2 separate regions of the Homo sapiens genome follow, and region 2 is linked to region 1. Evidence: fine-mapped expression QTL. Tissue or cell type: unexposed skin. Region 1 holds a variant in brackets; the other region holds the start of a gene. All regions are shown on one strand. Distances are from middle to middle.

What was found. PIP is the estimated chance that this variant, and not a neighbour inherited with it, causes the effect.
Region 2: BAZ1B starts here. The variant in region 1 is fine-mapped to the expression of BAZ1B in unexposed skin (GTEx, PIP 0.93).

The regions. Positions count from the first base shown.
Region 1 is chr7:73,421,111-73,423,790 of GRCh38, reverse strand. No RefSeq gene overlaps it. Among named protein-coding and RNA genes, the nearest start is that of FZD9, 11 kb to the left of the region's middle. The variant C/AC (reference allele first, on the strand shown) is at 1,122.
Region 2 is chr7:73,520,959-73,523,638 of GRCh38, reverse strand. BAZ1B (bromodomain adjacent to zinc finger domain 1B) reads left to right here and starts at 1,346. Exons shown (of 20, transcript NM_032408.4): 1 at 1,346-1,812. The coding sequence starts at 1,706. RefSeq lists silencers at 733-872, 1,223-2,102 and an enhancer at 1,003-1,162.

The sequences.
Region 1 (2,680 bases):
GTGGGGCTGTGACCTTCAGCCTCCGCAGACCACGTCCTCTCTCAGCCTGGGGCATGTGTGCAGGATAGGAGTGGGCCTCCCCGCCCCCCACTGGCACAGCCTCTTCCTCCCTACTGTCTCCCTTCAGTCCCCCCAGGTAGCAGTCAGTCCCTGGTCCAAGGGGCAGGTAGCACTTGGCCCAGCCCCTCACCTTGCCCCAGTGATGTGTGCCGGGGCGGGGACAAGGGTACCTGTCTCCACTACCCTTGCTCTGGCAGGACGTCTTTAGGGTGGGGGGTGCCACTCCCTGCCCCCAGCCCTACACTAAGTTTTTCCCAGCCTCCTATGAGTGCTTAGTGGCCCCACCTGGTCACAGCAGGAGCTTTATTTTGAGACAGGGTCTCACTCTGTCGCCCAGGCTGGAGTTCAGAGGCGCGATCTTGGCTCACAGCAACCTCTGTCTCCTGGACTCACAAACCATCCTCCCACCTCAGCCTCCCAAGTAGCTGGGACCACAGGCTCAAGCTACCACATCCAGCTAATTTTTGTATTAAATATTTTTTGTAGAAATGGGGTTTTGCCATGTGGCCCAAGCTGGTCTCAAACTCCTGGGCTCAAGCAATCCTCCTGCCTTGGCCTCCCAAAGTGCTGGGATTACAGATGTGAGCCCCTGTGCCCAGCCCAGCAGGAACTTTAAAAGAGCTGCACCTGGGCCAGGCGTGGTGGCTCACACCTGTAATCCCAGCACTCTGAGAGGCCGAGGCGCATGGATCACGAGGTCAGGAGTAGGAGATCAGCCTAGTGAAACCCCCATCTCTACTAAAAATACAAAAATTAGCTGGGTATGGTGGCGTGCGCCTGTAATCCCAGCTACTCAGGAGGCTGAGGCAGGAGAATCGCTTGAACCTGGGAGACAGAGGTTGCAGTTAGCCAAGATCACGCCAGTGCACTCCAGACTGAGTGACAGAGCAAGACTCCATCTCAAAAAAAAAAAAAAAAAAAAAAATCTGCAACTGGCCAGGTGCGGTGGCTCAAGTCTGTAATCTCAGCACTTTGGGAGACTGAGGTGGGTGGATCGCTTGAGGTTAGGAGTTAGAGACCAGCTTGGCCATCATGGGGGAACCCTGTCTCCACTAAAAATA[C/AC]AAAAATTAGCCAAGTCTGTTGGTGCACACCTGTAGTCCCAGCTACTTGGGAGGCTGAGACAGGATAATTGCTTGAACTGGGGAGGTGGAGGATGCAGTGAGCGGAGATTGCACCACTGCACTCCAGCCTGGGCGACAGAGCAAGACTCCGTCTCAAAAAAAAAAAAGAAGAAGAAGAGTTGCACCCTATCTCCAGGTCACCCGGGGACCCCTGCTTGACTTGTAAGCAGCAGCCCTTGGTCCTCCTTACACCAGCACATGGCAGATCCAGCCTCCCGGGGGTTCCCCACGGCACATCCCACACCCAGTCTTTAACTGTACTCCAGTCCCACTGACTGCGGGCAGGACCCAAAGTCTGCCGTTCACTCCTCAAGAGGCCCCTGCACCTGGTATGCCCGAGCTGTACCTAACCTAGTTCGAGCTAACTCAGTCCTAGGACTTGACTTGGTCATCACCCCCTCCAGGGCATACCCACCTAACCTGCCTTGTCATCTCCCACCCCGTTGTCCCCCAGGCTGGGTCCAATTCATTGCCGTGCCCTCAGCACTGTGCTAAGTACGTATCTGTTGAATGAAGTCCTCTAGAAATGAGAGTTGGACACCCCAAGGAGGAGACACTCACCTGGGTCCTCGATCTGCTAACTTCATGGCCATTTGGGGTTCTGTTGTCCCCCCACTGTATTATCCTGGAGCTCCGGGCCTCCTCCTCCCTCTATTCCTCTTTGTCCCTTCTCCTGCCTGCCATGTGCCATGATCTGTGGAACCAGGGCCTGGGTGTGGGCCTGGGGGTGGGGCCAGGCCTGCAAGGAGGCCCCTGACATCCCCGCAGAAACAGGTGCTTTTTTTTCTTTTTTCAGACAGGGTCTCACTCTGTTGCCCAGGCTGGAGTGCGGTGGTGCAATCATGGCTCACTGCAGTCTCGATCTCCCAGGTTCAAATGATCCTCCCACCTCAGCCTCCCAAGTAGCTGAGACTACAGAGCCCGAGCCCACCACCACGCCTGGCTAAGTGTTTTTGTTGTTTTTTTTTTTTTTTTGAGATGGAGTCTTGCTCTGTCGCCCAGGCTGGAGTGCAGTGGTGCCATCTCTTCTCACTGCAACCTCCACCTCCCGGGTTCAAGTGATTCTCGCACCTCAGCCTTCGGAGTAGCTGGGACTACAGGCGTGTGCCACGAGGCCTGGCTAATTTTTGTATTTTTTAGTAGAGATGGGGTTTCATCATGTTGGCCAGGCTGGTCTCGAAATGCTGACCTCAAGAGATCTGCCCGCCTTGGTCTCCCAAAGTGCTGGTATTACAGGCATGAACCACCGTGCCCGGCCCTGGATAATTTTTTATTTTTTGTAGAGATGGTGTCTTGAGACGTTGCCTAGGCTGGTCTCGAACTCCTGGCCTCAATGTATCCTCCTGCCTCGGCCTCCCAGAGTGCCAGGATTATATGCATGAGCTGCCACACCCAGCCCCTTTTCAGTCAATTCTTTTTTTTTTTTTGGCTGGAGTGCAGTGGCACAATCTCAGTTCACTGCAGACTCTGCCTCCCGGGTTCAAGTGATTCTCCAGCCT
Region 2 (2,680 bases), 100 kb before region 1:
GCACCTACAATGTTCCGAGCCAGGTGCTGAGTATCATGGGAGAAAAAAAAAAAAAGCCAGAGTCACAGCTCTGGCAGGGCGTGGTGGCTCACGCCTGTAATCCCAACACTTTGGGAGGCCGAGGCGGGTGGATCACCTGAGATCAGGAGTCCGAGACCAGCCTGACCAACATGGTGAAACCCCGTCTCTACAAAATACAAAAAATAGCCGGGTGTGGTGGCGCGCACCTGTAGTCCCAGCTACTCGGGAGGCCGAGGCAAGAGAATAGCTTGAACCCGGGAGGGAGAGGTTGCAGTGAGCCGAGACTGCACCACTGCACTCCAGCCTGGGCAACAAGAGTGAAACTCCGTCTCAAAAAAAAAAATAATGATAATTTTGGGAGGCCTAGGCGGTCGGATCACCTGAAGTCGGGAGTTTGAGACCAGCCTGACCAACATGGAGAAGCCCCGTCTCTACTAATAATACAAAATTGGCCGGGCGTGGTGGTGCACGCCAGTAATTCCAGCTACTTGGGAGGCTGAGGCAGGAGAATCTCTTGAACCCGGGAGGCGGAGGTTGCGGTGAGCCGATATCGCGCCATTGCCCTCCAGCCTGGGCGACAGAGCGAGACTCCGTCTCAAAAAAAACAAAAACCAAAAACCAAAAAACTAAGTACGTCTTTTAATCTATTTCTCCAAAGAAGCTTCTATATTCTACTTTCCAGCCAGCCCCTAGAAACAAGCAGTATACTTCTACCCAGATCTCAACCACACTCCCGCCCAGAAGTTAACTCTGGGGTGAGCAAAGCTGGCCCCCACGTTGTCCTTCCGCAGAACCTTTGGTAGGGTAAGCTCCCGGGGCCACTTCCCGCCAACCCCTCCCTGCAGCCCAGCCCCACCCGCGCATCCCCGGGCGTGGCCGAGCACGGCGCCTTTAAGAAGGGGGAGGCGCCCAAGAGGAAAGACAAAGCCCCTGGCCGCGCGCTCACCCTCCCCCTCCGGCGCACCACACGGACAGTGGTGCCCGGATGTCGGTGTCGCCGTCGGTGACAGATGGCGCAGTATCTGTATATGCGAGGGGCTTCTCCGGCTTGACCTCTTTGAGTTCTCGTCCTCTCCATCCCCCGCTGTCCCCCACTTTTAACTCTGCCGTCGGAGGCCCGCACGCCTATCACGGGCGCTTACATAACGTGACCTTTCACCTCTTCAGACTGCCCTCTAGTGCGCTGCAACCCAACTACGCGACAGGGGCAGGGGGGCGGGACCCAGGCGCGGAGCGGCAGCTCCTCCGAGCCAATAGGCTGTGAGCGCTGACCAGCTCTCCGCCTATTGGAGCATTCGCCACCGGCGCCACGGGGGAGCAAGTTAGTGTGTGCGTTGGCCGGGCCCGGGGGAGGAGGGGAATCTCCCGCCATTTTTCAATAATTTCCTCCGGTGCTGCTGAGGAGGAGTCGTGACTGCCGGCCGCCGGGACCCGAAGCGGAGGTCGGCGGGGGGCTGCTGGGAGGCGCGGCGGTGTGCGCGGGAGCTCTGCGCCGTGGCGTTCCGCTCCATGACTGTCGCGCGGCCGCGCCGGCGGTGAGGGAGCCGGAGTTCGCGCCGCCCTCTCACCCCTCCCTTCCCCCACCCCACCCCCGGGCGCCTGGCGCTCGCTCCGGGCCGCGGGGCCTAGTGCTGCGCCGCGGGGCCGGCCCCAGCAGCCGCCAGTCCCCACCGCCGCCGCCGCGATGGCGCCGCTCCTGGGCCGCAAGCCCTTCCCGCTGGTGAAGCCGTTGCCCGGAGAGGAGCCGCTCTTCACCATCCCGCACACTCAGGAGGCCTTCCGCACCCGGGAGTATCCTTTTCCAGCCGCGCGGGCCGGGCTGGGCCGGGCTGGGCCGGGGTAGGGCCTGGGGCTCGCGAGACCAGGTCAGCCGCGCATCCCCGGCCCGGGGCAGCTGTCAGCGCGCCCCGGCCGCTCGCGGGCCTGGAGGCTGAGTCTCAGCCTGCGCCCGCCGATCCTTCCAGGGGATCCGGCGGGGGGCGCGCACCGGCCCTGGAAGGAGAAGGGCCCGCTTCGGCCGCCCCCGGGGCCCCGCACTTTGTCCCGGGGCCTCGCCGGCGAGGAGCGCATCCCCCATCCCCATTACCTTCCCCGGGTTGGCTTTAGGCCTTGAGGACCCGAGAGGGAGGAGGAGGCGTGGGGAGGGGGAGCTAGGTTTTCTCCTTTAATTTTTACAAAAATTTTTTAAAAATTTAAATGAAACCTGCAGCTTAAGTTTTGAAATTGTACTCGCGCGGCCTCGTGATGCGGCGTGTGCAAGACTCAACTGCGTCTTACCCCGATCTCTGCGGGGATACTTGGCGTTTTTTTCGTCTCCCGAGGGGACTTTAGGCCGGGGATGAACTGACAGGACCCTGGGGCAGAAAACTAGGAATGAGATTCCCCGCTTAGAGGAAAGGGAGGGAAGGAAACTGCCTGTGGAGGAGCTGATGCCTGCCTTCCCTGGGCAGACACAGGTTTGAAATTTTGAAGGTTTAGAAGGAGATTGGTATTTGTTAAAATTAAACAAACAAAAAAACCAAGACGTGAAGTTTTTATGTTGTATTTTAGGAACATGAAATTGGATGTTTTACAAAGGAAGCATCCTCTCGTCATGACTAAGATTTCTTGCATAAGCATTATCTTTTAGTGAAAAGTTGTGCAGCTTTTATTTGCTTTT